Linked DNA regions of Homo sapiens. The protein of the gene in region 2 interacts with the protein of the main gene of each other region in a pairwise test. Each region holds a gene or a part of one and is shown on either strand. Other genes may lie near its edges.

Evidence for each region.
Region 1: the proteins of ZNF410 (region 2) and CCNG2 interact in a two-hybrid assay, tested with the Homo sapiens proteins (one large-scale study listed by BioGRID).

Annotation. Positions count from the first base shown.
Region 1 is NC_000004.12:77,162,782-77,167,792, forward strand, and holds part of CCNG2 (cyclin-G2), read left to right. Parts: intron 1-1,492; coding exon 1,493-1,698; intron 1,699-3,019; coding exon 3,020-3,143; 3' UTR 3,144-5,011. UniProt on the Homo sapiens protein: May play a role in growth regulation and in negative regulation of cell cycle progression.
Region 2 is NC_000014.9:73,889,859-73,894,869, reverse strand, and holds part of ZNF410 (zinc finger protein 410), read right to left. Parts: intron 2,844-5,011; 5' UTR 2,695-2,843; coding exon 2,662-2,694; intron 1,074-2,661; coding exon 938-1,073; intron 512-937; coding exon of another isoform or gene 461-511; intron 1-460. UniProt on the Homo sapiens protein: Transcription factor that binds to the sequence motif 5'-CATCCCATAATA-3', and is specifically required to silence expression of fetal hemoglobin in adult erythroid cells.

The DNA of each region.
Region 1 (5,011 bases), on a different chromosome or scaffold from region 2:
TTCAGCGAAGGCTTAACGGCCAAGAAATTGGTGGACTAGACAGATATAAAAGTCATTTTAGGGTAGACTTACAGGTACAATGTCTAGGTGGTAGTCACAAGCAGGAGTAAGGCTGTCCAACTCAAACAGTGGTTTTGGAAGCCAAGCATGGAAATGAGGCAAGGAGTCTTGAATGACCAAGATTTGTACCTAATGGTGGATATAATATTAGCATAATTGGCAGGAAATTTGGGAGAAGTTAATTTGTGATGAGAGCAATATGATTTTAGATGCTTGTGTACACAGGTGGGTGTCTAGTAGGTGTTTGGCGTTTTGGAATAAGAAGATAAACTATAGTTAGAGATTGAGGTTTGGAATTTCTCATGAAGAAGCAGTAGTTGAAACGGTAAGAAGCTGTGGAATCCTTTTTGTAGGGGTCAGTTGAAGCTCTGGGGTTTTCAGCGTTGGCCTTTCCCCCCAACATTAGGAGCCAAGTGAAGAAAGGTACATCCCCACAAGTAGAAGCACTGTCAGACTGGAAGGAGGTTTTTAAGGAGGTGGTCAGGAGTATTGAATTTTTATAAGAGATCCAATATAATGAAAATTGAAGGTCATTGGGTGTGTCAGAGGTAATGTCAGTAGAGCAGTGAGAAGGAAGTGGTAGAAACCAGATTACAAGTGGGTTAGGATGTAGCTACATTAGGTGAAAATGGGAAGCCAAGAAAATAGATCTTCTGTTTTCTGGTGAAAATATGTGCATGTGAAGCATTTTGTTTGTAACAGATAACTTTTTGCTTTAGTTATGATTTTATTAGTTTTTATCTGAACTTTTTATTGATAGTGATAGCTGGAACCATCTTCAGTGAAAATTGATTCGTTGAAATAAACTGAAGGCATTCCGAAGGAGGAGGGAAAAAAATACGTAAAAAGAAAAACAAAAAAGAAATAAACTGGAGCACTGCCCAGTGGTGGCGGAACTATGTCCTTTTTGGGAAATTCCTGTTCTCTCATATCACTAACTTCTTTAGTTTTGTATCTGGTGTTATAAGTGTGTATTACCAGCAATCCAAACAATGCCTTGTTGCAGGAACCCAAATTGGTTTCTGTAACAAAAGGAATGTTAAATTCCTTTGCATTGAGACTAAGGACTATACTTGATAGCTGATTTATTAACAGACCCAGAGTGTTTTTAGGTCAGTGTTTTCTTAGAATAGGCAAAGCTTTCTGTGTATTGAATCCTATGTAGTTTTATACTTACGGTGCTCTTCTCCTAAACCAGTGGTTCCCAAATTTTGAAAGTTTGGCTGCACATTACAATCACCTAGGGAACTTAGAAAACTCTTGATGCCCATGTTGCACTCATTGTCAATTAAATCAGAATACCAGGGGTGGAAGCGGGTAGTGGGAGCCAGGCATCTATATATATATATTTTTCATAGCTCACCTAGTGATTCCAAGGTGCAGCAAGATTTGGGAGACATTGCCGTAACCTCTTAAAATATTTTTTTTTCAGATTAATGACACTGAGTTCTTCTACTGGAGAGAGTTGGTTTCTAAATGCCTAGCCGAGTATTCTTCTCCTGAATGTTGCAAACCAGATCTTAAGAAGTTGGTTTGGATCGTTTCAAGGCGCACAGCCCAGAACCTCCACAACAGCTACTATAGTGTTCCTGAGCTGCCAACGATACCTGAGGGGGGTTGTTTTGATGAAAGTGAAAGGTAGGCAGGTTCCTTGACTAATTAAACTTCCCTAGACTAAATATTACTGAGTTTATTATACTCAGAACTGGAATAGTGTAAGACATCAGAGAAAGCAAGCACCTACACTAAGAGCTAAGAATTAAAGCCCCCACTCTTCAGGTAAGCAAATTAACCAGAAGTAGTATTTTAATATGTAATGATTTATAAGGTCCTCTCCAATTTTTTTAGTTTTTTTCTTTTTTATATTTTTTTGAGTAGAGATAGGGTCTCGCGATGTTGCCCAGGGCTGGTCTTACATACTCCCAGGCTCAAGTGATCCTCCTGCCTCAGCCTCCGAAGTGCTGAGATTACAGGTGTGAGCCACTGCACTCGGCCTCTTTTCCCTTTTTAAAGTGGTTGTTTTCCATCTTTCTCCTATTTCCCTTGCTCTTGAAATACAGCTAAAAAACCCCAAAAAAACAAAACTGAAAAAGAATTCTGGGCTTTGTAATGTTAGTATGAATTCCTAATATTGTGCTGTGGTGAAGAGATTGAGGGGTAGGTGCCTGGAAAATAAAGGGAATCACCACCACTGATGGGGAAGACTTCTATATATGTTCTCAGAGGTTTGTCAATTGGTGTTGTCTTATTCAGAATTTGATTACTTTGTTTGTAAAGTGAATAACTTTGCTAAATTTGTTTGTTTTATGCCGTAGAGATAAAGGGCCAGAAGTTTCATTTTCATAGCTTGTTAGTTTACTTTGATATTTGACAGTGTAAGTGGTATAATAAATCACTGATGCAAGAAATACATCTAAATAGACCATATGCTAGGAGGTATGTTGTTTTTAGTCTTCATTACTGGATTTAAAATACTTAGAATTCTACAATTCTAATACTTGCTGATAGTTATTAATTGGTACAAGAATAATAGTTTGGCAAATAGTAACTTGTTTAAACTTAAGAAAACCTATATTTTCTTTCTTTCTTTCTTTTTTTTTTTGCATGTGCCACCATGCCCAGCTAATTTTTGTATTAATATTTTTTGTAGAGATGGGATTTTGCCATGTTGCCCAGGCTAGTCTTGAACTCCTGGGATTAAGCGATCTGCACACTTCGGCCTCCCAAAGTGCTAGGATGACAGGGATGAGCCACTGCACCCAGTCCAAAAAATCTATATTTTCCAATGAGATTACTATAGACTTCATTTAGGAAGTCCTTATAAATTTTGTCTCTGTAAAGCATAAATTTTGAATATAAAAATCCTCACTAGAGATATAGCAGCTTTATTTTGGCTATAAAACATTTAAGTGTGTTTTAAGTAATGGTATCCTCTTTTTTTGTCTCTTTTTCTCTTTAGTGAGGACTCTTGTGAAGATATGAGTTGTGGAGAGGAGAGTCTCAGCAGCTCTCCTCCCAGTGATCAAGAGTGCACCTTCTTTTTCAACTTCAAAGTGGCACAAACACTGTGCTTTCCATCTTAGAAATCTGATTGTTCTGTCAGAATTTATATTTACAGGTTTCAAAGCAATAAATGGGGGAATAGGTAGTTTCCTGGTTTAGCCCCCATCTAGTCAGGAATTAATATACTGGAATACCTACCTTCTATTTGTTATTCAGATCAGATCTGGCCTATTTTCATATTTATCCTAAGCCATCAAATGGGGTAGTGCCTCTTAAACCATTAACAGTACTTTAGACATTGGCACTTTATTTTTCTCGTAGATCTTTAGCTACTTTGGGGAGGAGGGAAGGTGCTGATACCTTCAATTTGTTACTTTTCAAGATTTTTAAAAATAACTAGTGTAGCTTATCTTAAACATTTTATAAAACCTTCAGATGTCTTTAAGCAGATTGGAAGTATGCAAGTGCTTCCTTAGCAGGGACAGTGGATAATCCTTAATGGTTTATCATAGATTTCACCCTCCCCCCTTCTCAGAAGAGTGAGTATGCTCTTAAATGTCAAACACATTTTTGTTGTTTTGTTTTTTAAATGATCAGTGTCTATTTGATGTGATGCAGATCTTATAAATTTGGGAATTATAATATTGACATTTCTGTGATTTTTATATATGTAATGTCTTAATTGAGATTTCTGTTAAGGCAGAAATAATTAGGCTAGGGCTCTTAGTTTTCATTCCTATTGCCCAAGTATTGTCAAACTATGGTATTATTTTAATGTTACTTTAAAAATCCATAATCTGCTAGTTTTGCATGTACTTATATGAAAACAGTGCAGTAAGTTGAAAACTCAGTATCTATGGAATTGATAAATGTTGATCTGGTGTAGTATATTTTATCGCATTTTCTTATATTAAAAAATGTCTGCATGATTACATTTTATTTCCTTTGTAATTTACATTTCAGAATAGTGTATTGCTATATGGGTGCCAAGATTGAATATGAAGAACCCGAGTGTTTGTAGTATTATAGTTTTAAGCAAATCTGTGTGGTGATACAGCCATAAGAATGGGGCTTATATAAACTCTGTACATGTAAGATTTTGTACAGAGAATTTTTAACTTTATAAATTGTATATGAACATGTAAATCTTTTAAAATGTACATAAAATACTGTATTTTTTTACCTTGTGTGTGATAGTCTAGTCATTGCATGTAAATATAATTTATTATGTATTCTGTAGTATAAATCATACATTGATGACTTACATTTTTACTGGTAAGTCAACATCCGTTGGATGTTTTCTGAAGTGGCTCTTTTTGAAGTGATAATAGATTGTAATTCAAAATAAAATTATTAATGAATTCTCCTTGTTTGGGATCACATCTTAATTTTTAATCTGTTAAAAGTTCTTGATGTATTTTAATGAGAAGACTTTAGGTGAGGCTACAGTGATTCCAGAGTGAGCCTTCTAACTGGCTAGCAGAAGTTCTCTAGGTTTGGCATCTGTGCCTTGGAGATACTGAAAGAGAATCTGTCATTTGACAATTGACCTCTTTGTGGGATGGACTCATTAAGTATGCTCTCAGAGACTGGTATATTACCAGAATGCCTATTAATTTTCAGTGAGAGGCAACAGGTATTAAGTAGAACAGAATGCTCAGGTTGGCAGATTAGAACGATCTTTCAGGAGACAAAGCAAGTTTTAATCAGTTGTTTGGTTAATAAGTATGGGGTGTTCGCTGTGATAGGGCCCCGCCAGCTTCTGGCTCTTGTGGACCTCAAAAGTATCAGGTGGTTTTGCAAGTGGTGGTCCTTTCCCCTGCCCCACCCCAATAGGTTCCCCATCTGTCTAGTTTGATTTTTGTAGACCTTTGTTTTCTCTAGTTAGAAAATCAGGTACACTGAATATGGTTTTCATGTAACACCTCTTCTCTGGAGATAGGGGTAT
Region 2 (5,011 bases):
TTTCTAACTGGTTCTTTCCCCTTAGCATAAAGCAACCCTCAAATATCTCAGATCTTAACACAAACAAAAAATTTCCCTCTATCTTACCGCCTTCTCTTTTTCCTTCTCGTACCAGGAGAGACTTTAGAAAGTATGTATTGATAGGCCTGGCGCAGTGGCTCACGCCTGTAATCTCAGCACTTTGGGAGGCCAAGGCGGACTGATCACTGGAGGTCAGGAGTTCAAGACCAGCCTGGCCAACATGGTGAAACCCCGTTTCTACTAAAAATGCAAAAATTAGCCAGGCATAGTGGCACGCACCTGTAATCCCAGCTACTTAGGAGGCTGAGGCAGGAGAATAGCTTGAACCTGGGAGGGGAGGCGGAGGTTGCAGTGAGCCAAGATTGCGTCACTACACTCCAGCCTGGGCGACAGAGTGACACTCCATCTCAAAAAAAAAAAAAAAAGCAAGTATGTATACTCAAGTCACTGCAGCCTGACTTTCCATCCTCTTCTCTCCATGGAACAGGTTCTGCCAAAGTCAATAATGGAGTCCTTTTAGTCCCTATTTCACTGGGCCTGTCAGTAGCATTTGATACAATGATTTCTCCTGGGTTTCATGCCTCCACTCTGCTGATGTTCATCCAACTATTTTAGTCTTTGTTTCTTCCCTCCTTTACAAGTTCTCCTGCCCTACCCTGTACCTTAAATAAAGAGTTCCATAGTTTTGCACTGACCTTTTTTCCCCACTCTCACACTCTCTGGGTGATCATATCCATTCCTATGGCTTAAACTACCAATGCACTAATGATTTCATGGTTGCTTTTTCTCCATGACTCCTAATTTTTACAGTTTCCACCAGTCAGTTATTAAACGATATATTCATTCCACCAGTAACATAGAGTAGGCTAAGCTCTTAAGACTTCTTTATCCTATTTCTAGTGATCTTAATTTTTACCTGGTAACATTAGCCGACTGCATTCTGAGGCTTCAGTCACGGGAAGGAGGGACAAGCAAGTAATATCTTTAGCTTCTGATTCTACAAGCCCCTGTCCCAATGGGATGGACGTATTCTGAACAAACTGTACCAGGAGCTGGGGGGAGAAAAGACAACACTGAGAAATACGAGTTGTTAGAAATGTATCTAAACCTTTGAATTTACCAAAAGATAATATTAAGACTGTTCACTAGTCTCATCCATATTCAAACAAAAACTAAACAACATAATATCTAAAGTTATTTTATCAAGTTCTCTGTTCTAGAGAACAGCTGATTTATATAAAGTCATGTGCTGCAAAACGACATTTCAGTTAACAGACCACATATAGGATGATGGTCCTGTGAGATTGTAATATCCTATTTTTATTGTACTTTTTCCACGTTTAGATATGTTTAGATACACAATGTTTACCACTGTGCTTCAACTGCCTACAGTATTCAGTACAGTAACATGCTGTATAGGTTTGCAGCCTAGGGGCAATAAGGTATACCATACAGCCTAGAGTGTAGCAGGCTAAACCATACAGGTTTGTGTAAGTATACTCTACCATGTTCGCATAATAATGATATCAACTACCATCATATTTCTCAGAATGTATCTCTATCGCTAAGTGACACTTCACTGTAATTAAGTTAACCTCTGCCACCTTCTGTCAAACAGAGAAATGATAAAAATAATTACATTTTAAAATAATGGCTTAAAAAAAATCAACTGCATCATATTGATTACATTTTACAAAACACTTTTCTGTGTACTGGCTCATTTAATTATCGCATTAACCCAGTAAGATTTAAGATGTATTTTTTTTTGAGACAGAGTCTTGCTCTGTTGCCCAGGCTGGAGTGCAGTGGCATGATCTTGGCTCACTGCAAGCTCCACCTCCTGGGTTCACGCCATTCTCCTGCCTCAGCCTCCCAAGTAGCTGGGACTACAGGTGCCCGCCACCACGCCCAGCTAATTTTTTTTGTATTTTTAGTAGAGACAGGGTTTCACCATGTTAGGCAGGATGGTCTTGAACTCCTGACCTCATGATCCACCTGCCTCGGCCTCCCAAAGTGCTGGGATTACAGGCGTGAGCCACCGCACCCAAACTTAAGGCATATTTTACAGCTGAGGAATAAAATTGAAGACATTAAGTGACTTGTCTAAGGTCACAAGACTAGTTAGGAGCAATGCCAATCCTCAAATTTAAGTAATCTGATTCCAAATTCAGTGACCACTCTGCAACACAGATGTGCTAAATTTAAAGTAAGAAAAGTGAACAACAAAAAATGTTTAAATCCCCAATCACATTTAGAAAGAAAATACTTACAGATATATATAAAATAAACAAAAGAATTTGTAGTAGTAAATATTTATATACTTATACACCTATACATCACATGTATCTCATATTTATGTATATATTTATACATAAACATATATTTTTATTTATAAGATTTTATTACATTATCTAAATGTATGATTTCACATATACTGAAAAACAGATATAAAAACAATCACAAAAAATATAATTTTTAAATCTTTGAAAAAATAGTAACAATCAAAACCATATAGCTTAAAAAACCTAAAATATTTATTATCTGGCCCATTAAAGAAAAAGTTTGCTGACCCCCTAAACTGAAGATAAACTTTGAAATATAGCCCACCAAAAGAAAAGGAAACAAGCTGACTGGGCTCACCTCTGGTTTGGATTCTAACTCATCTGATAACATTGATTCAGCTTCCAAAACCTGTAGCTATTCAGGGGACAAGTTCAAATTTAATTCAGAGCCAATGATACCTTCCTGTTATGTTCATATTCCTCTAGGAAATACTATGCTCTTCCCGTAAGATGTTGTACTAGGTGGGTAATCAATGTAACCTAGAATAGGGGTAAAAAAGAGAGAGGGGGCATTAAGAGCAGTGGGAAAACACAGGTACATAAAGACACTTCTTTACATATACAAAAAAAATCACAACAAGCAAGCAAATAAAGAATTCAAACCGAAACACTTCTTTTAAAATACAACAAGCTCAACAGGCATCAAAACCCATAAAAATACTACGCTTTGATGCAGTATTTCAACCTCTAATAATCTAAAAAACTATCTTAAATATGGATAGAGCTATGTCCAAAGATGTCCGTCTTATCCTATGTAATAAACAACTGGAAGCAATGTATACACACACACACACCCCCAATTAGGGAATGGTTGATTAAATATGGCACTGTCACTTCAAAATATGCTGTGAAGGGTTGGGTGTGGTGGCTTACAACTGTAATCCCAGCACTTTGATAGGCTGAAGCAGGTGGATCACTTGAGGTCAATAGTTCGAGACCAGCCTGGCCAACATAGTGAAACCCCCTCTCTACTAAAAATACAAAAATTAGCTGAGCATGGTCGCAGGCACCTGTAATCCCAGCTACTCGGGAGACTGAGGCAGGAGAATCCCTTGAACCCAGGAGGTGGAGGTTGCAGTGAGCCAAGGTCAGACCACTGCACTCCAGCCTGGGCGACAGAGCAAGACTCTATCTCAAAAAACAAACCAACAAACAAATGCTATGAAGACAATGCAACAACAAGTGACTGACATGTTAAATTATAAAAATAAAATACAAAATTATATACTTGCTATTATTAAAACTAGTTATAATAAGCATCAGAAAAAGTAAAAGGAGATTCATACAGCTATGACCGTAGCTATACCGTGTGGTAGGCTGGTGTGACTTAATTTTCTTTTCTCAATTTTCCAATATTTCTAAAAGGCAACCATATTGTTTTGATAATTTTTAAAATTACATTTAAAAAAAAAAAAGTTAAAATTTGAAGAGCGTTTCCCAAAGGTAGTGCTCTCAGGACCCTGATGCGGCTGTTCTCTCTCTTTTATTTATTTATTTAGAGATGGAGTTTTGCTCTTGTTGCCCAGGCTGGAGCACAATGGCACGATCTCAGCTCACCACAACCTCTGCCTCCCAGGTTCAAGCAATTCTGCCTCAGACTCCTGGAGTAGCTGGGATTACAGGCATGAGACACCACACCTGGCTAATTTTGTATTTTTAGTAGAGACGGTTTCTCCATGTTGGTCAGGCTGGTCTCGAACTCCCAACTTCAGGTGATCCGCCTGCCGTGGCCTCCCAAAGTGCTGAGATTACAGGTGTGAGCCACTGCGCCCAGCCACTCCCTATAACTTAAATTCTTACTTTCTTATAGCTTAGTTTCTTTTCAGGATTTTGGAATGTGAGTCCATTTTATTTTGTACAATTGTTACTAAAATTGGGAGCACTATTACAAATAATCATACAGTGTAAAATGTATCCAGGATGGGTATATTTTCAATCAATGGGTACTTTAAAGTTTCCAATTAATACCAGGTAGTGTGGAAAGGTAGAACAAGACAGACTTTACAAAGAGGGCACTTAGGCTGGGCACGGTGGCTCACGCCTGTAAACCCAGCACTTTGGGAGGCCGAGGCGGGTGGGTCACCTGAGGTCAGGAGTTCAAGACCAGCCTGGCCAATATGGCGAAACCCCGTCTCTACTAAAAATACAAAAATTAGCCGGGCATGTGGCGGGTGCCTGTAATCCCAGCTACTCGGGAGGCTGTGGCAGGAGAATCGCTTGAACCCGAGAGATGGAGGTTGCAGTGAGCTGAGACTGCGTCACTGTACTCCAGCCTGGGCGACAGAGCAAGACTCCATCTCAAAAAAAAAAAAAAGTAACTGAATAAATGTTTTTTTGTCCTGTTGGTTTCTCCCTCTCTCTTTCTAAGCTACCTGAAATCCTCATTTTTCATTGTAAAAAAGTAACCATTTAGGCCGGGAGCAGTGGCTCACGCCTGTAATCCCAGCATTTTGGGAGGCCGAGGCAGGCGGAACACAAGGTCAGGAGATTGAGACCATCCTGGCCAACATGGTGCAACTCCGTCTCAACTAAAATACAAAAAATTAGCTAGGTGTGGTGGCATGTGCCTGCAGACCCAGCTACTCAGGAGGCTGAGGTAGGGGAATCGCTTGGACCTAGGAGATGGAGATTGCAGTGAGCCGAGATCG